Linked DNA regions of Homo sapiens: region 2 is linked to region 1. Evidence: fine-mapped expression QTL. A gene starts in region 1. The other region holds a variant in brackets. All regions are shown on one strand. Distances are from middle to middle.

What was found. PIP is the estimated chance that this variant, and not a neighbour inherited with it, causes the effect.
Region 2: its variant is fine-mapped to the expression of TRERF1 in whole blood (INTERVAL, PIP 0.97).

What each region holds. Positions count from the first base shown.
Region 1 is chr6:42,444,460-42,459,697 of GRCh38, reverse strand. It overlaps TRERF1 (transcriptional regulating factor 1), which reads left to right and starts at 7,772. Exons shown (of 18, transcript NM_001395490.1): 1 at 7,772-8,024; 2 at 8,437-8,521. It overlaps LOC124900214 (arf-GAP with GTPase, ANK repeat and PH domain-containing protein 2-like), which reads right to left and starts at 7,338. Exons shown (of 4, transcript XM_047419627.1): 1 at 5,416-7,338; 2 at 4,783-4,918; 3 at 3,544-3,753; 4 at 2,514-2,962. The coding sequence starts at 6,877. The coding sequence ends at 5,780. LOC107986596 (a long non-coding RNA gene) reads right to left here and starts at 7,338. Exons shown (of 5, transcript NR_171668.1): 1 at 7,073-7,338; 2 at 5,416-5,481; 3 at 4,783-4,918; 4 at 3,544-3,753; 5 at 2,514-2,962. RefSeq lists silencers at 6,318-6,757, 7,228-7,307.
Region 2 is chr6:42,310,783-42,326,020 of GRCh38, reverse strand. All of the region lies in intron 3 of TRERF1 (transcriptional regulating factor 1), which reads left to right. Among named protein-coding and RNA genes, the nearest start is that of MRPS10, 100 kb to the right of the region's middle. RefSeq lists enhancers at 9,282-9,371, 9,962-10,021, 10,090-10,757. The variant A/C (reference allele first, on the strand shown) is at 9,154.

The sequences.
Region 1 (15,238 bases):
AGAATTCTTTCTGATACAAGGTCTCATGTGTTCTCTCTCCCACTTAAAAAGAATTGTGGCTCCATTAGGGAATCTGGAAAACTAGCTGTAATCTATACTCACTGTGCAATTTAAAACTTTAGTAGATTTGCATCTGCAATAGGAAATTAACTAATTCTCTCTTTTCCTCACCCTCACAGCTAAAGCCACTCATTTGGGACTAACTTGAAGCTGGGAACTATTGTGGGCCACCATAGCCCTTGCATGCCACCTACTATTGCCACAGCTGAAATGTGTGACTCCCAAGCACGCCTCCTGGGCAGGTGCAGGAAGTTTTAGGAGTTACCCAAACCAGTTGATCACTTCTAGTTTTTTGTATTGGATACAGAATCTACTAAATAGGCTAATTAAAAAATATATGGCTTAAGCTGAGAACCTTCTCATATCCTGGAACCTATTTTTCTCTCTGGCTAGAAACTTACCCTAGATAGCAATCTCTTAGTATTACTAAACAAATATCAGTTAGGCCTCTGGTCTTGAGTAAGGCCAGCTCTCTCAATACCATCCTTAACAGAATTGAGGGTTGAAGTTACTACAATAAATTATGCTGCCTTGTTGGTTTCAAATGGGAGTTCCATAAACCCTCCTGTGCCTCAATTTTCTGTTTTTGTTTTCATTGCTTTGGTTGTTGCAGATTCAAGGATGGCAAAGAAACAAGGGTTTGAGAAACACCCTACAACCCTATTGTTTCATTGCTTTCACTTGCCACTGAAAGTGAACGACTCGCCTGCCTCTGGATCACTGGGACTGCTTCAACAACTGCATGAATTATATCCATCACTCATCCCTAAAGCACACACTTGATTTGTGCTATCCCCTTCATTTGGTCCTGTTGCCTCTCTGAGACTTCATTCTGCAGCAGTGGGTAGAAAGGCAACTGAGGTGGTATTTCCCCCTCCATGCTCTTGTCTATTTTTCCATGCCTGCAGTTTGTCCAGTTTTTAAGAAGCTCTCCCAAAGCTCCACCTTTAATATAAAGGGAAGTATTTTATAGAAGGGTTCACTTATTTGAAGAGTTACCAAATATATTGTCTTATCTTTTCCCCAAAATGCACACTTTCTCTTAAAGAGGACAAACTTTCATTTCAAAACGGGGTCATATGTAAAAATCATTCCAGCTGCTTAAATCCAGAGCATGGAAAAATTACTCCAAGAACAATATACAAATGCTCACTGGGCCTAAAACGTTTCGTTTGATTATGGACTGGATACATTTCCATTCAGCTCTGATTTGTTCCTGAGATAGGCAAATAACCAGCGTAGCCTCAGAAATGATCCTTCTCTTGGGAAAGCCAGCAGCATTGTGGACAGTCTAGACAACTAGAAGGAGCCAGAGAGTTCTAGCATCTAAACTGAAAACGAGGGAAGTCAGTCACAGTTCTGGACTGGGTGGCAGAACCGTGAGCAGAGTTGAGAATTTCACCCAGTGCATCTGATTCCAAGTCTATAAATTCTTGAGGTGTCTCTGCAGTGATGCACATTTTCAGGGAAAACCAGCCCCTAACTTTAATTTGCCTGTTCCTGTCACCCAGTCCTTCTGCCATTTACCTTCATATATGCTGTCTTCTGTGGAATTAAATGCGTCCTTAACAATTACCTGTCTACCTTGCTCTTTTCAGGGCTCAGGTCTGACTTACATGCTACCCTGAATGGCTCATGGTGACAAAAAATGCCATTTCTGGATGCCTATTATGTACTAGCATTGTATTTTGTTAACTTAAAAAATGTTAGGCTGGGTGCAGTGGCTCATGCCTATAATCCCAGCACTTTGAGAGGCTGAGGTGGGAGGATCCCGTGAGCCCAGGACTTTAAGACCAGTGTGGGCAAAATCGCAAAACCCGTCTCTACAAAAGAGAAAAATTTAGCCAGGCATGGTGGTGCACACCTGCAGTCCCAGCTACTTGGGAGGCAGACGTGCAAGGATCACCTGAGCCTGGGAGGTTGAGGCCGCAGTGAACTGTGATTATGCCACTGCACTGCAGCCTGGGTGAAAGAGCAAGACTGTTTCAAAAATACATGTATGTAATTATTTATAACAGTAATAATTCAACAAGCCTCATAATTTTTAATTTTAATGCTTAAAAGGGTTATGTTTATTTTACTTTTAAATTTATTTCATTTTATTATTTTTCAACCTGATCATCTCAGACAATAAATTTATTTCAAATGTATTTGAAACATGTCAAATATTCAACAGCAGTAGGGAAACTAGTATGGAAAGTTCCATATGGGAAATGGAATAATGAATAACTTCAACAATTTTCCGTATTTCACTAATCTTGTTTCATTTATTTAGTGTTTTGATGGGGAGGGGATGGAGTATTGGAAAGCAAATCCTAGATATATTTTCACTCAAAATGCCTCATTATGTATCTGTAATAGATAAGAACTTAAAAAAAACTGCAATGCCATTATCATATCTGAAAAAGTGATTAATTTCTTAATATCAGATAGTCTACATTTTGTCTCAAAAATGTCTTTTAAAAAAATCTTATTTATTCAAATCAAATCCTCACAAGATCTAAATATTGTATTTAGTTGTTACTAACATTTTAGAATGTTATTTATTTTAGAAGTCATTTATTTACATGCATTTAACCTTTATATTAAACCAACGCAGAAGGTATGGTCCCAGCTCAGAGAGGTTAAGAAACCTTACCAAGGTCTCATTGCTGGCAGGCACCGGACACATAATTTGAATTAAATCTTCTTAACTCCAAAGCCTCCATGCCACTCCTTCTGATGCAGGCTAACAGAATTTTTCCTGTGTTGCAGAGAGGCAAAAGGGCCACTATTTAAGAGAGAGGGTCCGGGTGTGGTGGCTCATGCATGTAATCCCAGCACTTTTTGAGGCCGAGGCAGGCAAATCGCTTGAGTCCAGGAGTTCGAAACCAGTCTGGGCAAGAATGGTGGAACCTCATCTCTACAAAAAAATACAAAAATTAGCTGGGGGTAGTGGCGTACACCTGTAGTCCCAGCTACTGGGGATGCTGAGGTGGGAGGATCACTTGCGCCTGGGAGGTTGAGGCCACAGTGAGCTGACAGCTAACCCTGATTGCCTCCATAGACTGTGCCACTGCATGCCATCTGGGCTGACAAGAGTGAGACCCTGTTTAAAAAAAAAAAAAAAAAGGAAAGAAAAAGTAAAAAGAGATAGGGTTTGGATTCAGGTTGGCCTGGATGCAAATTGGTGCAAATTACATAATCTCTCTGAACTTTCATTTCTGTCTGCATCTGTAAATAAGGATAATGATGAAGATTTGGGGCAGATTAAATAAGAATATGCATGCCTAGTATTTAGCACAGTGCGTGGCACACGGAAAGCCCTCGATAAATGTTAGCAATTAATGTAGAAGAGGAAAAAGAACCACAAAGTATTTAAACATTTGCATTTGTTAGTAGCTCGAGGAAATGGTGGCTCATCATTGTTAATAGAGCCTGCTTAGGATTGAGGCTGAAGGGGGGAAGGGTGGGAGTGGGGATAGGATAGGGGAGTGGCTCTACCTGGATTGGAGAAAGGAGTTCTGGACATAAAGATTTAAATTGGTGTCCGAGGAGTTCTCACAAGGCCTCAGCTGGAAAACAGTTAAATGCATCTTCTGACCACTAACCCAGGTTGCCTCCAGAGAAGGAAAACCAAGTGGGTGGCAGACAGGGTGGGAGGGAGACTTCTTGCTGTTTATTTGAATTTGGAACCATGTGAATGCATTCAACCTATTCCAAAAGAATAAATTACATTAAAAAATGGTCTTTTGCTATGGGGATAAGTGCTGAGAATGGTAAGACTAGGATCTAATGATAATAATAATAATAATTCCATTATACTTTGTGCAGCCCTAGGAGGGCTTCAGTCATGCAGGACAGGTTTTGAACTAAGATTGGGACTTTTTCAGCCTGACTCTGATTTCAAAGATCCAAGCTAATATTTTAATTTCAGTCACCCTCCTTCTGACCCTGATTGTAGAAAGATTCCAGACCCAGCGCTCATGGACTTGGTTTATTCAACCTGTGGATTGCCTTCAAGAGTATGCATTGTTGGGAGTCAAGTCTATTGGTAAAATCAGGGATGCATTGTCTGTGCATCTGCCGGTGTTTCCCAGTCCTTTTGGTGCTCTCTTTCTCTCTCTCTCTCTCCCTCTCTCTATATATATAATTTTATTTTTTGAGACAGAGTCTTGCGCTGTCACCCAGGCTGGAGTGCAGTGGGGCAATCTGCTCACTGCAGCCTCAACCCCGTGGGCTCAAGCCATCCTCCTGCCTTAGCCTCCTCAGTAGCTGGGACTACAGGCATGCACCACTATGCCTGGCTAATTTTTTATTTTTTAATAATAAACGTGGAGAGGGTCTCTCTACATTGTCCAGGCTGGTCTCAAACTCCTCAGCTCAAGCGATCCGCCTACCTCATCCGCCCAAAGCGCTGGGATGACAGGTGTGAGCCACCCCGCCTGGCCCCATAGATATTTTTCTGATGCTTCAATCAGCTAAGACTCTGAGGATCTGATTTTCTAGAGTCCTTTGGAAGGTGGGGGGGGGGCGGGGCGGGGGAGGATACACAACCCTATTCACAAATATTAGTAACTTGCTTTAAACTCTAAGGCCTTACATAAAATAACTCATTTAAACCTCACAATAACACTATGATATGAATACTATCATTCCCATTTTACAGGCAAAGAAACTGAACCAAGCGGTTAAGTAATTTGCCTAAGGTCAGAGCCTGCAGAGCTAACCATCTGGCATTACCATCACTCTGTTGGCAATGAACAGAGCGGGCCAAGCGTGTAGGGTGTAGGGGGTCCTTTGAAGATGACAAAAGCGTCCTTGGCTGTGTAGCCGCAAATCCCAAATCCTTCCTTCTCTGCAGCTTCTGGTTTAGGAGCTGGAAAGACAGGCTGTGAATTTCCACATTGACCTGGGGCAATTAACTTAACTCTCCGAATAGGTTCCTTATCTGCCCCGGGGAGGAGTTTTAGATTAAGAGGGTGTGTGTGTGTGCTGGGAGGGAGGTGGAGGGGCTGAGTTTTCTGGGTGGTGCGGTTTTCCCAAGTCCCGTTTTGAGGTTTTGTCCTAGCCAGCTCCCGCTCAGGTCCCTGGGCGGTGACGGTGGTCAAGCTTAGCTTGGCTGTTCCTCCTCCGCTTGGAAAAAGGCCGCCACTGGGGCCAACTCCGGCCACAGCGCTGCTGCCAGGAGACCTAGGGTAGGTCTTTTCCCCTGAGGTAGAGACCTGGGTGTACCCTCAGGAAGGCATCTTGAAGTTACTGACAGTTGAGTCAAATCTTGAAGGTCCAGCAGGAGTTAGTAAGAAGAGGTGGAAGGGGAAAGGTTAGGCGCCCCCTCCTCCACCCCTTGAACAAAGAAAGCTTGACGGGGCTTACAATATCCGAGGAAGAGCTGGGCGGGTAGAGAGGTCTGTAGAGGCGAAATCACAACTTGGCTTTATTCTAAGGGCAATGGAAGAGGGTTTTGAAGGCTTTAAAATAATGTCATTAGGAGTTTTAGTCGCTTGGGAGGAATGGGTCGGAGGGGGACAGGAAGCTATCGCAGAAAGCAGCCCACTTGGAAGATGACCGAGGACTGAGGAAAGAGGGCGGGGGACATCGAGCATCTGAAGCCTTTCCCAGTCGCCGCAACACTGTGCGCTGTCCCTCGGCTTTCTTTGCTTATGTGGAAGGGCTCCATAAAGGGCTGGGCACGCGCCAAACGCTCATTAAGCGAAATAGCCCGGGTCCCCTCCTCTTTTCAGGGACTCTGTGGTCCACGTGCCCCAGAATTGGTAGGGTAGGCGGGAGGACTTTCCACTGCTGAAGATGGAGAACCGTTACCCCTCAAAAAACACAAAAACCTCGGGTGCTTTTGGCAGCAGTCTCCTCCGCTCATGACCTCATGCTTTAAGCTCCCATATAGCCTCCCTCCGCCCAATCCACACCCAGCGCCCGGGTGGGGGTGGGGTGGGGGACACTGGCGAAGGTCTGGGTAGCGGGAGGTCATTCTTCTTGCGCGACATTTTGGGGGAAGGGGCGCAATGATTTCCCCCACGGAAAAAAATGGATGGTGTAACTTTCTGTCGTGCAAAAAATACTGTCTTGCCCTCGAGACAGATGCCTCGAACCCGGCTCGAGGTGGTCTGTTTAGCTGAACTACCTTTGGTTCACGTTTCCTCTGACCAGGAAAGAAGCTTGGAAATGCAGGGGTCTCAGGCCAGGTTCCCTGACACCTGGGCCGACCACTGCCACGCCTTCTCGGGACCTGGGGGCCGTCCTGCTGTTGCCCTCCGCCCCCGCCCGCGCCGCGGAGGTTTGAACCTTCGGCTCGCCTTTCAGCCCGCGCCCTGCCCCCTGCTCGCAGCTGCTCCCGGTTTGGGTGCAGCGGTTTCCCCCGCAGAGGAGGAGGAGGAGACAGCGCGAGGGAGCGACTCCGGGCTCGGGTTTCCGCACCAATGCCGAGCAGCCCCGGGCGGCCCCCGGTGGCCGTCCCTCCTCCCCGGCACCACGTTCCACAGTCATGGCGCGCGAGGAGGGGCGAGCGCGCGCGGCGGCTGCACCCGCGCCCCCTCTCCTCCCCTCCCCTCCGCCGCCCGGCCCCTCTCCTAGGCAACCCCCCTCCCCGGCCTGCTGCGCCTGCCGCGGCAAGGGAGACCCCTCCCCAGAGAGCTGCTCTTCCAGCGCGGTCTACTGCACCCCTTCCCCGCCCCCATCGGGGCGGAGGGATGGAGACGCGCGCTTCGCGAACCTCCAGCCCCTTCTCCGGAGCCCCAGCCCTCTCCCAGCCCCACCGAGGCCAGGGTGCGGTGGGGGTAGGCGCGGACCGTCTCCTCGCAGCCCGCCTCGACCTCGGCATCTTTGCAAACACTTAGAAAAATAAACAAACCCCCTCACAAACCCCAGTCGTTAGCTTGCAAAGCGTGTTACAATAACCGGGACGGCTACGCAGGAAGCAATCCTGCACTGGTCCGGGTTTAAGGCGGCAGCTTCCCGGCCACGCTGCCTTCTCCCCGGCCTCGATTTTCCGGCCATGCCGGAGGGTCCGCTGCACCTCAGGGCTGACAGGTCCCGCTCGCGCAGGGCCGCAACTGGGCCCGTGTCCCCCGTCCCATCCTCGTCCAGAGACTCGCCAGCCTACAAAAGGTGCAACCTCACGCACACGCAAAGCGCACAAATAAAGTCAGCAGCGCACCGCCGCGAAGGCTGCGAACAATGCGCCGGGCGGCCCGCGCCCGCCGTAGCGCTGCGCCCCGGGGGAAAGGGGACGCGGGCGGGGGCCGAGGCGGACGACCAGCCGGTCGCGGCGCTGGACACCTTACTTCCTGCTTCCCCGCCCGCGGCCAGACCCAGCTCTGCGGAGGGATATCTCCCCTCCTCGGTCCCTCTCCCTCCCTTCCCCCTCCCTTCCCCCGCCCTCCCCCTCTTTTTGCTCCTGCTCCCCCCCCCCACCCCGCCTTTCTCCTTTTGCAAGAAAATAATTTGACAGTCGATTTGCTGACAAGGGAGGAATTTGCATCCTGGATTTAAAAAAAAAAAAAAGGCCGAGAGGAGCTTGGGAACGGTTGCTAGGGGTGGGTAATGGGTGAAAAAAGGGGGGTACCGGGGAGCGGATAAGGAGGGTTAAGGGAGGGGGCGAGGATGGGGAGCAATGCAAAGGTAAGGCCAGGTTACCGCGGCTCGGCCCCGAGTGGGCTGCGACCGGGGGAGGGGCGAGAGATACATATGTATTTCTGTCTCCCCAGCACACCCCCTTCCCTCTAAGCGATGGCTGAGAGGCGGTGCATGCAGATGGGGAGTAAGTTTCCTGAAGGGGAGGGTGGATGCACGCGCGCAGCCCGGCGCTGCAAATTTCCACTGGGGAGGGAGAACGGCTGGATGCGGAGAGTTTGGAGTTGCTTGCGGCGGAGGGCAGGAAGGGGAGCAGGGCTGGGAAAGGGGGCTGGCGGGCGCTATATCTGGGAGTAAGTTTCCAGCATCAGGAGAGCCTGCACGCTTGCTCACTAGTAAGTTTCTGGCCGGGGAGGGCGCATGGGGAGGAGGAGAGGGAGGGGTGCATGTATATAGAAGGGGGGAGGGGGGAGCAGATTTCCTGCGGGGAGGCTGAATGCATATGGAGAGTAGATTTCCTGAAGGGAGGGTGGAGGCGTAGACGGACCGAGTAAGTTTCTTGCTGGGGTGGTGGAGGAGGTGGTGGGTTGGTGCTTTGGAAACCCAAAGCTTCCTACCCTGGGTGGGGGAGCACACTCTTGTCGGGGGGACGAGGGGCCAGGTTCCCTGCTGGGGAGAGGGGCTTGCATCTGGGGAGTATGTTTCCTGGCGGAGCGATATTTGTTTACAGGCTGAGGGCAGTACAGTAAGTGAGTAGCGCTGAGAGAAGGCGGCTGACATAAATTAATATTGAAATTACTCCATCAGCTCTGCTCGCCCCCCATCTCACCCCCCAAGCGGATACTGGTCTTCTCGTCGGATTGCCCATGCACTTGTTGCAGAAACAGCCAAGGTAGGCAAGAAGCTTATTAAGTTTCATTTTTAAAAAATTAGTTTGGGGATGCTCCTCGAGAAGACGGGGGTGGGGCGAAGTGGGGAGGGAAGAGTGGGGAGACAGAAGGAGAAGTCTCCCCCCCCTTTACTTTCACTATGCAAGCAGGCCTTCTCCCTTCTTCCCTTCTTCCCTCTCCGGGCTGCACAGCATCCCAGCAAAGGGGGAGGGATGAGGTGGGCGCTATAATTGGCAACCCTGGCTTAAAGGTAGTGATGGTGGGCTTGCATTTGAGGTTGTGATGTTATAAAGGCTTCATTCTCCAGCTAAGAAACCGCAGGACTCTGCCTTTTGGGGTTTTTGACATGATACATATGTGTATGTATACGCGCCTGCGGGCTCTGTGGGGGCTGGGTACTCCCCAGAAGTTAGTGTGGCCACCCAGATGGGAGAAATGTGTAAGGGGGTAAACCTGTTCCTTCACTCCCCAACTTCAGTTTGGGAGACTGGGAAGTTACTGCCGGTGGTCTTAAGAAACAGATATTAAAAACCAACCAAACCACTCCTTCACCAGCGGAGGCCGAGAGCACCTGGCAGGCAGCCTCTGGCCAGCACTGGACTGGAGCATGTGCGCCTGCCATCCTTAGGTTACAAGAAAACGCTTTCTGGTTCCTCCGTGTGTCTTCTACCGGCCTGTTAGAGCCAGCTTTGTGGAAACTCTTCCCCAGACTAGACGCAGCTTTGGCAAGTGCCAGTACTGAAGGGGATGGCTTCAATTCAGCATGGCCTGGGCTGTCTTGTGAGTGCGTGGAAGTCGTGCTTAGGAATGACCGCCCCTGTAGTGGCTAAAGAGTTCATTAAAAAATATCTCCTGAAAACCGGTCCAGGTGCACTTTTCAGCAGGTCATTGAGGAGAGTTTTAAGAAGGGGAGTTTTAAGTTGTCCCAGTTAGCACCCACCTTCTGCATCACTGACCCTTTTAAGAAAGGAGTTTGGCGATAGGAAGTGTGGTGTTGATGCTCACTGACTGGAGAGGATAACAGCAGGAGTCCTCAGTGCTTAACTAGTTAACCAGCAGCCTTTGCCTCTCCTTGCCTCTGTTTTCTTGGTCCTCAGCCTACTGGTTTCTGCAGAAGAGTTGTAGGTCTTAGCTGTCAGCTACCTTGATGATGCTGGGAGTTTTAACTTTGCTAGGATAATTTTAGCATCTCGGGTCCAACCCGGAGACGTTTAGTAGGGTTAGGGAGTAGCCACTAGGCAGTGGGGTTAACTGAGGTTGGTTAAGCTTTCTGCAATTCTGTAGACAGGCTCTGTTCTAGCAGGGTCGAGAAAAATGGGTTTTAAAAAACTCGCTACACATTGCTGATGGAGAGTGCTTTTTTTCTTTCCTAACTGTCGTCAGATTTCCAGATTGAGGGTTGATATTTGGCAGTTTGAGAGTTGAGTTAGTTGGGAATTAAATATTATTGCTGCTTATCAAATGTTCCTAACTAGGCATTAGTTAAGCAAATTAGCTATTATTTTTACCTGATGAAAATCTGAGTCTGGTTGTTGTATTTGCTGGGAGGGTAAACAAAATCTTTATGTATGTTCATTCCAGGGTGGAATTATTTACATGCCTAGCCTCAGAGCCAAGAGCAGTCATTCAGGTTTTTTTCCTTATATTTATGAGATTTATTTTATTGTCTTGCTTTGGCCATTAATCAAGTCACAGTAGTTTTTTTTTTTTTTCCTCTTCTACCGAGAATGTTCTTGCGGTAATAAAGGCTTGAAGGCCCATGAATCATAATTCGTTCTTTTTAAAATATTGTGGTGATTGTCAGGATCTGATTTATAGGAATTGATACCCGGAGTGACACACCTCTCTGGGCTCCGCCCTTTTAGGCATGTCCATTTTCGCCAAAGGATTGTTTAGAAGCCAGCTTGACATCCCAAAAAGAGCATTTCCCTTCTGCTGTATGAGAAGATTAATTTTGCAGGTTCCATAGTAAACATGGGTCTTTTCACAGCTTGGTAAGCAGGCTTCCACATAGCAGGCATGTGTTATTATCACATAGCATTTATGTGAGCTTGCTGTGAAAACAGTTGTTCTATGAACTGTGTGGAAAGTACTCAGTTTTGCCTCCTATAACCGGCTTGGGCCTGTGGTTTTTGTTGAGTTAGGAACTTAAAGTGTAAAAGAGGAGACAGACTGCAGTGTTCTTTGCTGCTTGTATAATAAAATGTGTGGTCACAAAAAATAAAGCTTGTTTATGATTTTCTTTTTCTCCTTCTTTAATGGGTGGGTTGGTTATAATAACCGAAAGCGTTATTTTTTTGACAAATGTAAGGATTCTCTGTGAAGCTGATTAGCCAGGAAGTGTTAAAATTGTCTTGTGTTCAATAGTTGGCTTAAGTTTACAGTATTGGTAAAGTGACAAAGAACTTAAAGTAGTTTGATGCTCAAGGCTAGGGGAAACATCACTGGAAAGAAAGGTGGGGAAGGTACCAATTTCTAGCCATTTCTGGGCTTTGGATTTTTTATCTTAAAAGTGCGTGGTTTGATCCGTGAGTTCCCTTCCGGCTCTGAAATTCTGTGTCTTGTAAGCGAGGTCTCCAGAGGTCTTGACAGTCTCTTCCTGAGCCAACGGCCAATTGCTTCATGGACTTGGGTGAGCTGATTAACTTCTGTTTTTGTCTTCTCATGGAGAAAGTGGATTTGATCCTTGGTATTCCAGAAAGGTCTCTTGAGTGGCCTGGTGATCTTGACCATCAAACACAAGGAAATACTTATGAATAAATGTCTGCCAGTGTCTTGGACAAAAAATTCTCAATTCTATGCACTAACAGAGAGTGCAGCATGTACATATCCTAGGTACCAAAAATAATTTCTGTTCATCTTAGAAGTTTCTTCTCCAGCCAGTTGGTTAACTTGTCTAATCCTTGGTCAAGTCTAAGGTTAACCAAGCTCTTATTCCCAGGCAGCAGGAGGAGATAGCTTTGGGGAGAAACTGGAGACCAGAAAGCCCAGTGTGGCTTTGCCTGCTTTCTGTGGGTAATTGGGATTTGGCTGAATATTTGTGATAAGGTTCATAATAATGATATAGTATCATTTTTATCACCAGGATTCTCTGTATTTCACTATGGGCATTTTTGGGAGAAGCTCTTGATGTTTTTATTGACTTTGGACATTGCCATGAAAAGTAAGGATTTAGGGCTGGGCGCGGTGGCTCATGCCTGTAATCCCAGCACTTTGGGAGGCCGAGGCAGGCGGATCACCTGAGGTCAGGAGTTCAAGACCAGCCTGGCCAACATGGTGAAACCCCGTCTCTACAAAAATACAAAAATTAGCTGGGCATGATGGTGGGGGTCTGTAATCCCAGTTACTTGGGAGGATGAGGCATGAGAAGTGCTTGAACCTGGGAGGCAGAGGTTGCAGTGAGCCGAGATCATGCCATTGCACTCCAGCCTGGGTGACAGAGCGAGACTCTGTCTCAAAAAAACAAAAACAACAACAACAAAAAAGAAAAGTAAGGATCTAGGCAAGTGGCTTATACCCCAGGCGGTATAAATGGTGCTCATGGTCCTGCTCTAAAGGCGGTTGAATTCAGCTCATTTTATTTCCGACCTCATAAAACTGTGTGGCTGAGGGAGGAGGAAGGATTAAAATCATCTGGGATCTTGTGGATTAATGATATTTCTGAATTTGCATGTTGAAGGGAAACCAGTAAAATAAAGGAGAACTAACGAATAGTTGATTTCTTTTGTGGAGAGAGGAGGACAAGAACAGCTGGATTCCAGTTACTGGCGTGCGTTGCCACAAGGGTGCTGTGGGCATTTTTAAGGAATAATATAGTCTCAGTAACATGAGTTTGACCCCAGGGCTCTCTTAATAAATCTTTTCTTCTGGGCTAAAGAAAACACACAACAAAAAGCCTCTGTGATATTTTCTAAGAATTTTAAGTTCTCAGAGTAGCTGCTTGTAGTAATTTGGTTTACTGAAGAAACAGATGATTCTTGGTCTTTCATCATGGAAGACGATGAGCTGGCATGGGGTAGCATATGCTGAGCTGTTGGGGTTTGGTTTAGCAACATAAACATTTCTTTTTATATGTTTGATAGAGCAGGAAGGGGACAAAGAACCCGTGTGCCTAAATAACAGTGATAACTCTGAGCTCAAAGAACGAGGGTTTTGTTTGTTTGTTTGTTTCTTTGAGACAGCATCTTGCTCTCTCACTCAGGCTGGAGTGCTGTGGCTCAATCTCAGCTCACTGCAGCCTCTGCCTCTCGGGTCCAAGTGATCCTCCTGCCCCAGCCTCCCAGGTAGCTGGGATTACAGGCGTGCACCACCATGCCCAGCTACTTTTAATTTTATTTTAGTAGAGACAGGGTTTCACCATGTTGACCAGGCTGGTCTTGAACTCCTAGCCTCAAGTGATCCGCCCACCTTGGCCTCCCAAAGTGCTGGGATGACAGGCGTGAGGCACCACACCCGGCTGCGGAACGAGGGTTTTTTTAATGCCATAAGCAGCCCTGGTTTCTTTCATACATGCGGCAGCTTCTTATTGAGGACTTACTATTTGCCAGGCACTGTGTTAAAGCTCCAGAAATATATTGATAATTGAAAGAGACATAATCATCTCCCTCTACCCATACCCCTACCCTTACCACTTCACTTACAGTCCAGAGGCAGACATGTAAAGAAATACAGCTTGCCAATTGTGATCAGTGCTCTGATGAAACCACAAGTCCAGTGACTTGGATGGATTTCATTAGAGTAGCCTGGAAAGGCCTCTCTGAGGTTTGGGGGTTGGGGGAGACAGCACATGAAGCAGAGGAGAGCCTGTGCAGAAGGACTTTGGTTTTGGAGAACTCAAAGAGGCACAGGTGGTCAAGGATGAAGGAGGGAGGGCAGCATGAGATGATTGTGCAGGACTCTCTGGGCTTTGAAAAGGTTTACATTTCATTTGAAGTGTAGTGGGAAGCCATTGAAAGTTTGGAGTGGGACTGGGCACGGTGGCTCACACCTGTAATCCTAGCACTTCGGGAGGCCGAAGCGGGTGGATAGCCTGAGGTCAGGAGTTCCAGACCAGCCTGGCCAAAATGGTGAAACACTGTCTTTACTAAAAATACAAAAATTAGGCTGCGTGGTGGCGGATGCCTGTGATCCCAGCTACTTGGGAGGCTGAGGCAGGAGAATCACTTGAGCCCAGGAGGTGAAGGTTGCAGTGAGTGGAGATCGTGCCACTGCACTCCAGCCTGGGTGACAGAGCGAGACTTCATCTCAAAAACAACAACAACAAAACAAACAAACAAAAGAAAGTTTGGAGTGGGAAGCGACAGCCCCTAATTCACGTTTTAAGAAGATTGCATTGGTGGAGAAGAGAGCAGAGAAAGGCAGAGCACAGTAAAGAGGCAGGTGGAGGAGGAGGCGAAGGAGGTGCATGGAGAGGAGTGGGTGGGTGTGAGATGCTCATTAGGAGTAGAATGGGCAGGGCTGCTGTGGGGTGGGGAGAAGCATCTAGAACTCCGAGGTTTCTGGCTTGTGCAGTTGAGTAGATGGTGGTGCTGTTTCCTGAGATGAAGAAAGATTGGGAGAGGGAGGCGGGCAGAATCAAGATATTTTAGTTGGGGCACCACTAAGTTTGAGGTGCCTATTAGACTCAAAGTGGAGATGTCAAGTAGGGTAATCTGATCTACCACCTAGCACGAGATAAAAATGTGGGAGCCATCGGCATGGAGAGAACATTTAAATGCAGGAGAGTGGACAGAATGCCCTAAGGAGCCCGTGGAGAGAGAAGAACAGGCAGTGTGAAGGAGGTGTGTGCTGTGTGTGTGTGTGTGTGTGTGTGTGTGTGTGTGTGTCTGTGTGTGTAGTGTTTCCTGAGGCTGATAAGGCCAGAAAAATCACCATTGGATTTGTTTCATCGTTTTTTGTTTTTTTTTTTTTTGAGATGGAGTCTTGCTCTGTTGTCCAGGCTGGAGTGCAGTGGCGTGATCTCAGCTCATGCAACCTCTGCCTCCCATGTTCAAGTGATTCTCTTGCCTTAGCCTCCCGAGTAGCTGGGACTACAGGCATGTGTCACCACGCCTGGCTGGTTTTTATATTTTTAGTAGAGACGGGGTTTCACCATGTTGGCCAGGCTGGTCTCAAACTCCTGACCTCAGGTGATCCACCTGCCTTGGCCTCCCCAAGTGCTGGATTACAGATGTGACCTACTGCACCAGGCCCTGAATTTGGCAAAATGGAATCTGTCTGTGACTTGTGAAGAACAGTTTCAGTGGAGTGAAGGGTTGGCTGGGACCACGACTGGAGAGAGTTGGGAGGGGATCGTGAGGGAGGAGCTGCGGACAGCCCGTGTAGTCAACTCTTTGGCAAAATTTGATGATGAAAGGCGAGGAGCAGAGAAACGGAGTGGGAGCTGGAAGGATGTGCACAAGGGAAAGAGGTTTTTTGGAAGTGTTGGTAATTTGTGTGCTGATGGGAAAGATCAGTGGAGAGGGAGTGACTGATCAAGAGAAACGAGTTGGGTCAGTTGAGCAAAAAGCCCTTGAGAAGGTCTGAGGGGAAGATCTGGCCTTTGTAAGGGGGTGGGGGATACTTCAGGAACTTGCTCCATCATGACAGGGAAGAAAAACTGATAAGGGGGCAGATGCTAAGGAGTGGGCAGGCAGGGGACTCTGTGGAGGACCGAGATGCTCTGCCTCCCCAGGCTGAGGCTGCCCTGTCCCTGGGAAGGAGTTTGGGCTTAGGACTTG
Region 2 (15,238 bases), 130 kb after region 1:
TGTAGTCCCCTGTGTCTGTTCTCATCCATGTGTACCCGTGTTTAGCTCCCACTCATAAGTGAGAACATGTGGTATTTGGTTTTCTACTTCTGTGTTCATTCACTTAAGATAATGGCCTCCAGCTACATCCATGTTGCTGTGAAGGACGTGATTTCATTGCTCTGTGGCCCCAGGCTGGAGTGCAGTGGTGCTATCACAGCTCACAGCAGCTTCGAACTCCTGGATTCAATCCATCCTCCCACCGCAGCCTTCTGAGTAGCTGGGACTACAGGTGCACACCACCACACCCAGCTAATATTTGTATTTTTTTGTAGAGGCAGGGTTTCACCGTGTTCTCCAGCCTAGTCTTGATTTCCTGGGTTCAAATGATCCTCCTGCCTCAGCCTCCCAAAGTGCTGGGATTACAGGTGTGAGTCACCACACCCAACCAATTTCATTCTTTTTTATGGCTGCATAGCATTCCATGGCATATATGTGCCACATTTTCTTTATGCAGTCCACTGTTAATGGGCATCTAGTTGATTCCATGTCTTTGCTATTATGAAGAATGCTGCAGTGAACATATGAGTTGCATATGTCTTTTGGTGGAATGATTTATTTTCTTTTGGGTATATATCCAGTAATAGGATTGCTGAGTTGAATGGTAGTTATATTTTTAGTTCTTTGAGAAGTCTCCAAACTGCTTTCCATGGTGGCTGAACTAATTTACACTCCCATCAACAGTATATAAGCATTCCCTTTTCCCCACAGCCGCGCTAACATCTGTTATTTTTTGACTTTTTAATAATAGCCATTTGGACTGGTGTCGGATGGTATCTCATTATAGCTTTGATTTGCATTTCTGTGATGATTAGCGATGTTGAGCATTTTTTTCATATGCTTTTTGGCCACTTGTATGTCTTCCTTTGAGAAGTGTCTGTTCATGGCCTTTGCCCACTTTTTAGTGGGGTTATTTGTTTTTTTTCTTGTTGATTTATTTAAGTTCCTTATAGATTCTGGATATTAGACCTTTGTCAGATGCAGAGTTTGCAAACATTTTCTCCCATTCTGTAGGTTGTCTGTTCACTCTGTTGATAGTTTCTTTTGTTGTGCAGAAGCTCCTTAGTTTAATTAGGCCCTACTTGTCAATTTTCATTTTTCTTGCAATTGCTCTTGAGGGCTTAGTCATAAATTCTTTTCCAAGGCTGACGTCCAGATGACTATTTCCTAGGTTTTCTTCTAGGATTTTTATAGTTTTAGGTCTTACATTTAAGTCTTTAATCCATCTTGAGTTAATTTTTGTATATAGTGATAAATAGGGGTCCAGTTTTAATCTTCTGCATATGGTTAGCTAGTTTTCTGAGCACTATTTATTGAATAGGGAGTTCTTTCCCCATTGTTATTTTTGTCGACTTTGTTGAAGATCAGTTGGTTGTAGGTGTGTGGCTTTATTTCTGGGTTTTCTCTTCTCTTCCATTGATCTATGTATCTGTTTTTGTACCAGTACCACATTGTTTTGGTTACTATAGCCTTGTAGTATAGTTTGAAGTAAGGTAATGTGATGCCTTCAGCTTTGTTCTTTTTGCTTAGGATTGCTTTGGCTATTTGGGCTTATTTTGGTTCCATATGAATTTTACAATAGTTTTTTCAAATTCTGTGAAAAATGATGTTGGCCATTTGATAAGAATAGCATTGAGTCTATAGATTGCTTTAGGCAGTATGGACATTTTAATGATATTGATTCTTCTGATTCAAGAGCATGGAATGTTTTTTCATTTGTTTGTGTCATCTATAATTTTGTTCAGCAATGTTTTGTAGTTCTTGTAGAGATATTTCACCTCCTTTGTTAGATGTATTCCTGGGTATTTGGGTGGGTGGACTGTTGTAAACGGGATTGCATTCTTGATTTGGCTCTTTCTGGGCACTAATTATGGAACAGACCCTGTGCTAGGCTGTGGGAATACCAAGATTAGCAAGTCTCCCACTTTATGTCTCTACCTTCTCTTTGATGTTGGTTCAACAAATGCCAAGCACATCCCATCCATGTAATGTCCCTGTTGCCTCAAACATGTCACTTGATCAGAAAACTTTGGCAACAATCTGTTCTGAAATAAAGTTCCAACTCCTGAGCCTGGCATTTAGATCTCCCCCATTGCACTACCCTGGCCTGGCAAACAGCCCATCTCTCACTCCTCCTGTGGCCAGGTAGACCTGCTCGCTGTCCCTAAACATGTCTCACTGGCTGCCTCCTCCTGTCTAATTCCACTCAACCTTCGGGGCCAACCAATGCTTACCTGCTTAGGAAAACCTGCTAAGACATGTTGCCTCCTGGTTTTGGGGCTTGGAGGCACCTATTATTGCACTTTTTCACTGGGTGCTTATCATGCTACCTTGTACCCTGGTCTTTCTCCATGGTTGTCTCACCTTCCCTATTGTCAAATTGCTGGGATTATTGCTTCATAGGTATCTTTCCTCTCTCCCATGATAGAATGCAGGGCTGACCTATGGAAGTTATCCATCAGTATCCCTAATGAAAACTGGGGGAGGCCAGGCGCGGTGGCTCACACCTGTAATCCCAGCACTTTGGGAGGCCGAGGCAGGTGGATCACGAGGTCAGGAGTTTGAGACCAGCCTGGCCAATATGGTTAAACCCCGTCTCTACTAAAAATACAAAAATTAGCCGGGCGTGGTGGTGCATGCCTGTAATCCCAGCTACTTGGGAGACTGAGGCAGAAGAATCGTTTGAACCCAGGAGGCAGAGGTTGCAGTGAGCCGAGATCACACCACTGCACTCCAGCCTGGGCGACAGAGCGAGACTCCATCTCAAAAGGAAAAAAAAAAAAAAAACTGGGGGAAAGTTGCACCTCCTTTATCAACTCTTCCTGACAGTTCCTTAGTTCTGCTGCTGAACTAGAGGAGGTCAGTATTTACCACTCTTAGACAAATACATGTTTTGTTGAATCCATTTTTTTTTTTCATTCAGATAGGCAATGGAGAGGGCAGGATAATGGAGAGTGTGAGAATAGGTGCTAGTTATCCTCTGCTTGCCCCCCACCCCCTCCCAGTGCCATTCTCTGCCCTGCTGTGGCCTGGGAGACCAACCTCAGTGGATTGTGTCAACTAGGCTCCTTTACTTTACCTTCCAGGTGTGGTTGGGTTTGGCCAGTAGGAGGCACCAGTAGGAGATCCAAGAATAGGCAGAAAGCAGGGAGCGTTAATCCCCCTGCTTCCTCTCAGCCTCATCAGTTTTCTGGCAACGGCTATCTTTTACAGCTACAGCTCCAGTCCTCCAGATGCATTGGGCTACAGTAACACTGTTCTGCCTTCTTGCCCTTCATACTTAGTCTCATACTTAGTCTCTGCATGCTGCACCATATATTGCTGGTTGCCTTAATCCTCCCCACACCTCTATAACTTGTTCATTTATTAAATTATTTTTATTTAAACTCTTTTGATCGTTCTCTATAGTATCTGAGAGTCAAGCTTAGCAGGCTTAGTTATCTGTCCCAATATACAACCCCACGAATTGATCTGTGTTATTTTCTTGAAAAGGGCATTTTGCTTTATTTGGGGCAGGGGGTTTGCATTCGGAGGAATTTATAATAAAAATTAGTCTCCTGGCCCCTTCCCTTCCTAACCCAGACCTACTGCTTGGAGGCACTTTTAACTCAATTTTATTTTATTTTAGTTTAGTTTATGGCATTTACCTCCATATTTTCAATAATGTGCTTTAATTTTACTCCTATTTTAGAAATTACTTGTTGACTTTCTGTTATGATAGATAACAACTTAACTCCCTTATACCATCCCTCTACCTCTCCTCCCCACATCCTCACAACAAAGTTGTATTATTATTTATAGTTCCTCTGCTTAGTTACCTTTATAAGTAAGATTCTTACTATCATATTTCTTGTTTCTTAACAACAGTACTTCCTGAGTCCCGGTGCAGTAAAATGGCAGTATTTGCGTTCTTACCTAATTTGCCTTCTACTTTCCAACTTCTGTCATCTCTGCTTTTACTTTTACATTGTTAAGATTGAAAACATTTACATTTTTATTTTGTAGCTGCCATTCAGTCTTTTATGCTTTATCTACAGGTTGATCTTAAAGGCTGAAAAACTAGCAGATAGGGCTTATGCTATTGTGATTGCATAAATGACAAGTTGCACATTGACAATCCACCATTGGACATACTTGTTTGATTTGCCTAGTGATTTTTTTTTAGGCTTACAGCCAACATTTAAAAATTGGTAGAGTTTTTTTTATAAAAGATTTAGAGTTTGGGGTTTTGTTTTAAAAATTGGAAGTTCTGGCACATATGGTCTGACTTCCCACATATAGTAACACTCTGCTGGAGTCTGTCCCCTTTAGAATAGGCATTCCTACTCTAGTTTGCCACAGTTCCTACCACTCGCAGTATATGCAAGTGTTCCAATACCTGACTTGCTCATTTATTTACTTACTTGCATGACGCTGAAGGCATTTAAGTGTGTGACCCTGATGCTTGATGTGTTATTCTCTTTGGAGCCAAGTAATATACTATGGATACTTTCTTTTACAGCTTTAATTTTTCCAAGACTTTCTCATTGCCTTTTTTTTAAAAACTTTGCTGTTATTATATCCTCATTTTTTTTCTCTCAAACTCTCTAGCCAGTTGGGTATTTTATATATCCCTTTCTCCCAGGGTCCTCTATTCTTCTCAAATTTGATTTCATTCTAGGTCTGCTACAGAGCTGTCACCTGAGATTTCCTCTACTACTTTACTAGATTGGTTCTACTGCTTCCTGGATCTCAAATGTTTTTTTCAGGGTGGGGTTTAGGGGGGTCTCAGGGTTGGGGCTGGTTAGTTCAGTTTCTCCAGAGAAGAAAATGCCTTTTTTTTTTTTTTTGGCTTGGAAGAATAGATAACCTGGCTGCCTCATGAGCCACCTATGAAGGGTGCAAATCTTCTGACTTCAGATTTTATAAAATTCCCCCCTTTTCAGCCTCCTATCTGATTCCTGCCCTCCGTTGTTCTGGCGTCTCTGAGTCATGAGCCTGTGGCCATTTTGCCAGGCTAATGGAATCTCATAATATTTGAGCGCTGGAGCTCAGGCTTCCTGTGCTTGCATCATCAGTTTCTAATCTTCCATATTCTGTCTGTTTTCCACAAAGTTGTCCCAATCTCTGTCCTGGGTAGCCCTCACCTGTTCCCTTTATTGTTGAAGTTATGCCTTTTAAAAAAAATTATTAGGCCAGGTGCGGTGGCTTACGCATGTAATTCCAGCACTTTGGGAGGCCGAGGCAGGTGGATCACCTGAGGTCAGGAGTTTAAGACAGCCTCGCCAACATGGCGAAATCCCATCTCTACTAAAAAATACAAAAATTAGCCGGACGTTGTGGCGGGCGCCTGTAATCCTTGCTACTCAGGAGGCTGAGGTAGGGAGAATTGCTTGAACCTGGGAGGAGGAGGAGGTAGCAGTGAGCCAAGATCATGCCACTGCACTCCAGCCTGGGCAAAAGAGCGAGACTCAGTCTCAAAAAAAAAAAAAAAAATTCTTTCACTTTTGTTTTGGTAGTGATGTGTTCAAATGGAGAGGGTATAAATGAATACAGTTAACGTATTCGTCTTTAATAGGTTGTGCTCAGAATTGATCTCAACCCTTCTTGAATCTGTTTAAATTGTTGTCCTATGTCAATGTAAGAGCCAATAGGCTAAACGCTCCACCACCTAAAGTAGGAACTTTTAATCCTAAATTTACCCCTTTAGGATTTAGGAAACCTGTCCTAAACCCTAAAGGAGTATATTTAGGATTAAAAGTTTGATTGAATAGACATATAATAATATAATATAATTTAGTTATGGCTGGGTGCGGTGGCTCATGCCTGTAATCCCAGTACTTTGGGAGGCCGCCAGGTGGATCATTTGAGGTCAGGAGTTCGAGGCCAGCCTGGCCAACATGGTGAAACCCCATCTCTACTAAAATACAAAAATTAGCTGGGCATAGTGATGGGTGTCTGTAATCCCAGCTATTCGGGAGGCTGAAGCAGAAGAATTGCTTGAACCCAGGAGGCAGAGGTTGCAGTGAGCTGAGATCACACCACTGCACTCCAGCCTGGGAGACAAAGTGAGACTCCATCTCAAAACAAAAACAAACAAAAAATAATAATGATATAATGTATTTAATATAATATATAGCATTATATTATTATATGTCTATTGAATGCACCATTTTTTTTTTTTTTTTTTGAAACACAGTCTCACTCTGTCACCCAGGCTGGAGTGCAGTGGCACAATCATGGCCTTGACCTCCCAGGCTCAAGCAATCCTTCCACCTCAGCCTCCCAGGTAGCTGGGACCACAGGCACACACCATCACACCCAGTTAATTTTTACATTTTTTTGTAGACATGGGGTTTCCCTATGTTGTTCAGCCTAGTTTCGAACTCCTGGGCTCAAGTGATCCTCCTGCCTCAGCCCCCCAAAATGCTGGGATCACAGGCATGAGCCAGTGTGCCAGGCTCATACTTTTTTTAACAATCAAATTAAAAGCTTGTATTGGTTAGGGCAACATTAGCTGCTGTAATCATCTCCCACATTTCAGGAGTTTAACATGAAGGAAGTTTATTTCTTGCCCTTGTAACAGTCAATGCAAGTGTTTCTGGTTGTAACTGGCTTTCCTCTACAAGGTAATTTAGGGATCTACATGCCTTGCCTCTGTCACTCTGCTATACTCTGGAGCATGCATCTTTAATGGGGGCAGTATCATGCCCAAGGGGGCAAAGATCTTGGAGGCTGAAAAATCTTACATTTTGATGCATAAATCACAAACATCTACATGGTACATAAACAGATATAGAGTATATCTGTGGTGTGAAAATGTCATGGAGGAAAGTAATTAGGGAAAAAAAATGTCTAAAAAGTCCCCTTAGGAGGGCAACAATGAAGAAAAGGTGGAGAAACACTGCCACAGGCCTATGAGGACTCTTCATTCAGGTGGAAGGGAAACAGAAGATGGAGAAGGCTCACCTGCTTCTTAACCACCTTGGCCCAAAAGCGATACAAGTTACTTGGCCCACATTTCATTGGAGAGAACTGGTCAGGGAGTTCCACCTTGCTGCAGGAGGAGATGGGAAATGTAGTCTCTGGCTGGCCACACTTCAGAGTACTTCTAAGTGAGGACTCTTAGCCAAAGAAGGGAGAGCATCTATTTTGGAGGATGGTTGGCCTCCCAATACAGGAATCAAACAATGTTGTCTTCAAGGACCAGGTACTACATATTTTGGGCTTGCAGCCATGGTCTCTATTGCAGCTACTGAACTCTGCTTGTTGCAGCTGAAAGCAGCCATAGATAATACTGAAATGAATGGGTGTGGCTATGTTCTAATAAAGCTTTATTTACATAAACAGGCAGCGGATTGGCCTTCAGGCTGTAGTTGTCCAGCCCCTGAGTATCCATTCTGGAGCCTTTCAGTTGTCCACATTACCTCTGCTTCTTGGGACCTAACCCACATTTCCTTTACTTCCAGTGCCTAACTAGAGCCTGGAGCTTCCTCTTAACTGAATGAAGGGTTCGTCTTGGCTGTTTCACTGAAAACAGTGGAATATGACCCTCCACCAAGTGAAGTGTAGAGATCCCAAGACTGTAGAAAAGAAAGAAATTTTGTCTATGTCAGTCCAATGTTAGCCCTCCCCACAGCCACCCTACATGGTAGGGGTAGAGTGCCTGGCACTCATTATTAAGTGCTCAGAAATTTCCTGTATTCAGTGTTGGGGGCTGGTTTAAAACTACTTGTATTCAGCGAAATAAGACCTTGGAGAATATGGACCTCTATTTCTTGTAGCGTTAGAGTGGATTATTATTCAATGGTTAAAACTAGTATTTACAAAGAGCTTTTTTTTTTTTTTGGAGACAGAGTCTCGCCCTGTTACTCAGACTAGAGTGTAGTGGGGTGATCTCGGCTTACTACAACCTCCACCTCCCAAGTTCAAGCGATTCTCCTGCCTCAGCCTCCCAAGTAGCTGGGATTACAGGCGCCTGCCACCACGCCCAGCTAATTTTTGTATTTTTAGTAGAGACGGGGTTTTGCCATGTTGGCCAGGCTGGTCTTGAACTCCTAACCTCAGGTGATCCGCCTGCCTCGGCCTCCTGAAGTGCTGGGATTACAGGTGTGAGCCACCGTGCCTAGCCTAGAACTTTTAACAACATGACAAAATGCTTATTTTATAAGCAGGATTCAAAATTATGTATACAATATAATCTCAACTATATCTTAAAAAGTTTAGCAAAAAAAAAAATAATTCTCAACAAGTGATGGAGTTTTTCTTCTTTTTATTTTGTATCTGTTTTCTAAAATTTTTACAGTGAACATGTTTTAGATGTGGAGAAGACTGTTATTTTAAAAATTATTGAGGTCTGGGAGCTCACGCTTGTAATCCCAGCACTTTAGGAGGCCAAGGCGGGAGGCTTGCTTGAGCCCAGGAGTTCAAGAGCAGCCTGGGCAACAAAATGAGACCCTGTCTCTATAAAAAATTTTTTAATTAGCCGGGGATAATGGTGCGCACCTGTAGTCCCAGCTTCTTGAGAGGTTGAGGTGGGAGGATTGCTTGAGCCTGGGAGGTTGAGGCTGCAGCAAGCCATGATCATGCCACTGCACTCCAGCCTGGGCAACAGAGCAAGACTCTGTCTCAAAACAAACAAACAAACAAACAAAAACTACTGAGGAGGAAATTAGTGCTGAGTGAGGGTATAATTACCCAACAGGTTCTTCCTTCCTCCTGCACAGACAAAACCAATTCACTGAGACCACAGTATTGTAGTAGACAAACAGTTTAAGGCAGAGCCAGCCAAGCAGAAAGACTGGAGTTATTACTCAAATTGGTCTCCCAGAGAACTCAGAGGCTAGGGTGTTCTACGGATAATTTTGTGGACAGGGGAATGGGAGCTGCTGATTGGTGAAGGTTGAAATCGTAGGGGTGTGGAAAATGGTCCTTGTGTGCTGAGTCAGCCTCTACATTAGGGGGCCACAGGACAGGTTGTCATGAGTCCCAGGTCCAGGTAGAGTCAGATGGTTGCCAGAATGCAAAAGTCTGAAAAGCATCTCAAAAGACCCATCTTAAGTTCTACAATAGTGATGTTATCTATAGGAGCAATTGGGGAAGTCACAAATCTTGTGACCTCTGGCCACATGACTC[A/C]TGAGTAGCAAGGGATTATAAAAAGGCAAGCTGGGGGCGGTGGAGGGGAATGGCTGGTTATCCTTTAGCTACACCTACATGTTAGCAGAATTCAGGCCCCTCCCATAATCCTAATCTTGTGGCCTTTCATTACCAAGACAAAGGCGATTTTGGTCCCTGAGCAAGGAGGGGGTTCGTTTCAGGGAGGGACTGTTATCATCCTTGCTTCAAAGTTAAAACAATAAACTAAATTCCTCCCATGGTTAGCTTGGTCTACACCCAGGAATGAGGGAGGACAGCTGGCTTGTGAGGCTAGAGGCAAGATGGAGTCAGCCATGCTAGACTCCTGTCACTGTCATAATCTTTGCAAAGGTGGTTTCAAGAGTATTAATGAAGGTGTCTGCCTGCTTGTGCACACATAAGCAGGCACCTGAAAATGCCATCCAAAATTTTGTTAGAACAAAGTCACTATGAGGCAGTCCCCTTCATCTGTCCTCCCCAAGTTAGAAAAGCTTCTTTGGATAGTGACCAGGAAGGGTTCTGACCTGCCTCTACATTGAGGCATTTTTCTCATTTCTTAGTAATGAGACCCTCACCTAGATTTTCTTTCCACTGAGGCAGACCAGCCTCTCTGGATGAATCATCAAGATTAGCAATGCGGGGAGGAGGAGGTGCATGCTTGGGGTTAACTGCGTGCCAGAGTCATTGGTCATCACAGCCACTTCCCCAGACCCATGGACTTTCTTGACTTTGGCGGAGAAATTAAATAACTTGTGACTCGAAATGTCATTTGTGTAGACCCATTAGCCAGGCAGCCTGACGTCCAGGTGCCCCCACCCCCAGTGGAGCAGAGAACAACTCATTCTGCAGGAAGAACCAAATCTGAGATCATCCCAAAACAGCCTCTTATTTTTTAGGCCTCCCTTGGGTCCTCATGTGCATCTTCCAGGTACCGTGAGGGTAGGTGTGGGGGTCCTCTCCCCTGAAAGGAGAGCACCCCCACCCAAGTCCCTCCTCTTCAGCCTCTGCCTGTGTTTCTGCTGGTGATGTCCTTCTTGAGCCTTGAGCTGTCTGCACACTGGTCCCAACCTGTGCCTTCCACACTGCTCAGACTTGCAGCGTTCTCCAGCCCTCAGACACTTCACTATGACGTTAGGGGGTGGCAGTGGGTGGGGGGGGGGGTGGTGTTCCTCTCCCCAACCCTGACCCAGGGGCCCCACCTGGTCTCTTGAAGGATATCAGCTGCTAGAAGACAGCCCGATGGCCCCCCTTCATTTGACCTCCTTTGTCTCTACTCCAGGAGCTCCCTCTTAGCTCCAAGTTAGGTTAGGGTGACCTCGTCACAGCCTCTTTGCCTCTACCCCTGCTTCTGTGCTCTAAGCGCCGATCCTAGCGCCCTTCTCTTTCATCCCAATGTGCCATACTCTAGACCTGGATGTGCCACGTGTAAGGATCACACTCCAGCAGGCACGAGGCATTAGAAAGTCCTTGGCATGTGCTTCTGTGAGCACCCAGACTTCTTACTGTGACTTGTGAGGCCCTGCACCAGGGTTTGTCAACCTTAGTGCTATTGACATTTGGAGCTAGTGAATTCTGTCTTGAAAGGGACTGTCCTGCACATTGTAAGATGTTTAGCAGCATCTCTGCCCACCAGGTGCCAATAGCACTTCCCTAGTCGTGACACAGAAATGTTTCTAGACACTGCCAAATGTCCTCTGGAAGGCAAAATCACTCCAGGTGGAGACCACTACCCTACATAATGGAGACCCCGTCCTACCACGCTGCCTCATCCCACCCACTGCACACCTGCCACATGCACGCTCATCCCTGCCAGAGCCACTGCACTCGCTGTCACCACTGCTGTGAACGTTCTCTCCTCACATCTTCATGCTTTGCTCATTTAGGTCTCAGCTCAACTGACACCTCCTTACCTTGGCCTTTCCTAAGCACCCTATGCGACCAACCTATTCGCTCCATCAAGTTTATACTTCTGTTTTGTTTTAAAATCACGTTTAGAATCTCTGACCTTGTTCCTACTGCTTTCCTCCTGGTTTTCACTGTCCCAGCCACACCCTTCTAATTCCTCAGTCACATCCGGCATGTACCCACCACAGGGCTCTTGCTGTTCCTCCTCCTAGAATGCTCTTTCCCCAGATCTCATTGTTCTTATTCCTTCAGGCATTTGCTCAGATGTCACCTTCTCAGAGAGGGCTTCCCTGACTATTTCCTACTTTGTTTTTTCCCATAGCATCTACAGCCATCTAATACACTATACACTTTAATTATAATAATTTTTATTTTCTGTTTCTCCCTATTAAAATGAAATCTCCATGAGGGCAGGGAGTTTTGTCTTCTTTGTTCACTGTTGCGTGCCAGTCACGGAGAACAATGCCTAGCATTGAGGCACTCGGCCAGTATTTTTTTAGATGCATGAGCTTAATTTTGCAAGGCTTGCTGGGACCTCTGCCCTAGTTTAACTGTGCACATTTGAAAGCATCGGGTGAGCTTGGCTTCTTGTTGTAAAACCAGGGATTTATGTTGATGAAGAGTTCGATCAGGGTAGACTCATACTCTAAAGCATGTTTTCTTGTGAATAGAGATGTTTACAAAGCACAAAGCAGTGAATTTGCTAATAGTTCTTTTTACTGGCATCAGCTAGGGTTCTGAATTTAGCTGAAGCTTATACTTACCATGCCATGGTGGAGGTTTTCATTTCCTAATATGTACATGCATTTGTCTAAAAGTAATTAGTTTGTCTTCAGTTATGAGCCACAAGAGGTCAGGACCACCACTATGGCACCTCTCCAGAAAGGGGCGTGCCTGATAAGCACAAAAAAAAAACCCTTTAGGGCCGCACCTCCAGCTGTTCCCTGTTTCCCAGGATCTTGTTTATTTCTCATCTCTCCCGGCTTCCGGTCTCATTCCTTTGCTTTTTCTCTTAATAGGCTCTCATCCTTGTCTCAAAATCCCTGTCCTTACCTCCATGATCCATAAAGACCATGGCTCTCAGAAGGCAACGTAGAAGTGAGTCTGCAGCACCTCCCCGCTTGGAGCCCAGGAAGTCCTGAATATGACCAGGAGAGTTCCTGAGGCCCACATATCCTAACATGTTGAAATCCAAGGTCTTTCAAGGAAGCCCCACCACATATGCCTTCAGAGACCTGGCCAACCCTGCCAGCCTCCCCAATAGGTTCTCCCTCATATGGTCACATTGCCAGAAATCCCACTCCTGGGGCTCAGTGAAGGCCCTTGGGTCTTCAAGGGAATTCCTTGTTCTGGGGCCCACATCCCAGGAGAGTGCACAACTTGAGCACGTTTGCATCCCGGTAAGCGTTACTGGGAAGGCTCAGATTTACAGGTGACAGATGGAGAGGGACTCTTGGGAGAGTTAGGATGTTGCAGAGAAGACCCCTTTTCCAGCTTATGTAATCGCTCCAAGGAAAGAGAGAGAAACAGAGAGAGAGAGATGAGGCTTAGCAATTGAGTTCCTGGCTGCTTGTCATATGAAGAAAACTGATGTGAACGACACTTTCCTCCTCTGCTTCCTGCCCTGCTTTTTTGTTCTTTGTATCGTGAATAATATGAATACAGGAGCTTCATACTTAGAGTTATTTTTACAAGGTCTCCTCTCTGCTTCAGATGACTCAGAGCCGGAGCCTTCTCTTGAAGACGTTCCTTGGGAAGCACCAGAGAGATGCCGAACCCCAGGCGATCTCAGGGTCACAAGTGGGTGTCCTGGAAGTGTGGGCTGGAAGGAAAGCCTTATTGAAGGCAAAACTTCTGCTGGTTCCCCTCTCTACACAGCCAGCCCTGCCTTTCTCTCACCATCTTTTCCTGCTTCAGCAGAAACAATCAGGCCTGCTTCCCAGTCTGGAAATGAGCAGAGGGCACTGCCCCAGGGTCGAGGCTGCAAGCTATGGGTAGATGAGGGGAATCTGTAGGCCCCAAAAGGCTGGTGGCTCTAGTCTGAAGGCAAGAAAACTATTTGGGCAACCAGGCACTGAAGGAGAAGGAACATTGGTAGAACCTATTTCGTGTCTGTCTCCCACTCTGCCCTTGTGTTCCTGGAGAGTGGGGGCTGCCTCTGACTGTTCTTCCAAACACCACACCCGGCACTAAGACCCAGTGCATGTGTGTGGAGTCGATGAATTAATGAAAGGGAAGCCCCTTTCCATGGGTAAAGCCAAATTACCTGGATGTGAGTACAGCACAAATCCATATGCCCGTGGAGGATGGAGCATCTGTATCTGCTCCCGAAGGTGCAGATGCCCAGACCTCGGCACACCCAGCGCCAGCATTGTCTGCTTTGACCCATCATAACCACTCTGAGAGGCCAAGGAGGTTGTTTCCATTTTACAGAGGGGAATGCCGAGGATCAGAGAGATTGGCTGACATGCCTGTTGTGCGTTTTGTAAGCGGCACAGGGGGATTCTTCTGCCCCACTTCTACTGACTCCGTGATCCAGTGCTGCCTTGAATCTTCGGAAACTCTAAAGTAGGGGCTCCCCGCTTCTGAGAAAGACTCCGTAGCTCTCTTTTGGACACAGCTGCAGTGCCATCCTTCTGGGAGAGCCAGCCTGGAGCAGAACAGCTGGGGCTCATCTATCTGCTGCCCAACAAACCTTGGAAGGAGTATGATAGGAAGGTTCCATTCAGACTGCTCTTCTCTGGTGGCTCTGGGGAAAAGGGCATGATGAGGGGAGATGCCCTTTTTTCCTCCTGTTAATCTGCCCTCATCCCTGACTCCCTTTCCTGCTGTCTTCTATCCAACCACACAGTACCCAGCTTAAAACCAAGGTGGATGGAAAAGGTTTCAAGTTGATCATGGAACTCAGAATGCATTTTTCTGTAGAAGTAGCTGGAATGCGATGCCTGGTCTCCCCATGATATGTCTGAAATAAAAGAGTAATAGCATTGGCCCAATAGATAATTTGTATTAATGTTGATGGTTTAATTAATGAATTATTAATAAGCCAGCACCCTCTCTTACTTGGAAGACGACAACAGCTTTCTCCACTCTTGTCCTCTTGTAGTTTGTTCTCCACGTGAAAAGTGAATCAGACCCCATCTCTCCTCTGCTCACAACCCTCCATGATCTCTTTTTTTTTTTTTTTTTTTTTTTTTGAGACGGAGTCTTGCTCAGTTGCCCAGGCTGGAGTGCAGTGGCACGATCTTGGCTCACTGCAACCTCTGCCTCCCAGGTTCACGCCATTCTCCTGTCTCAGCCTCCCGAGTAGCTAGGACTACAGACGCCCGCCACAACGCCCGGCTAATTTTTTTTGTATTTTTAGTAGAGACGGGGTTTCATCATGTTAGCCAGGATGGTCTCGATCTCCTGACCTTGTGATCCACCCACCTCGGCCTCCCAAAGTGCTGGGATTACAGGAGTGAGCCACCGCGCCCGGCCCCTCCATGATCTCATGCCTACAGCCTGGCCTCCTGCCTTGCTGACCGCACCTGCCGGCTCCCTCCACCAAGTTCATTCCACCAAAGAGTGGAAGGACACAGCTGCTGTGTCCTCTGCCTGGGACTCTCTTCCTTCCCTGAGTCACCTGGTTCAGCCAGTTCATTTAGGCCTATGCCCAGATGTCACCTTTTCAGGTGACCATGAATAGGCGCCACCCATGTTCATCACTCCTCTGACCCTTACCCTGCTTTATTTCCCTTCATAACATTCATCATACCTGCCATGACATTGCACACATGCCTGCTTACTTGTATATTGTTATTCTCCTCCACTAGACTATCTGCTCCACAAAGGCAGGGACCTTTTATTTGTTTCCTGCTGTGTTTCCAACACTAGAAGAGTACCCAACATATAGTAGGTGCTCAATAAATATTTATAAATAAATAGATGAATGCACAACTGAATGAGTGATATATCTCTACACCTAACCAACAGCAGATTGTGGTTTACATGCAGAATTTATCACACATTCCAAACATCAACGCCAAAAAGGAATTTCTTCCTTGCCTTGCCCTTGGGATTGGAAATGCAGGCACTTCATTTTAGTAATGAGTTTATAGATTATTCTGGAAACCAGAACTTCTTGTTCTGCATTTTTGGCAAAAATAGACACCTGCTTTCTTGGAGAGTAGCTTCTCAG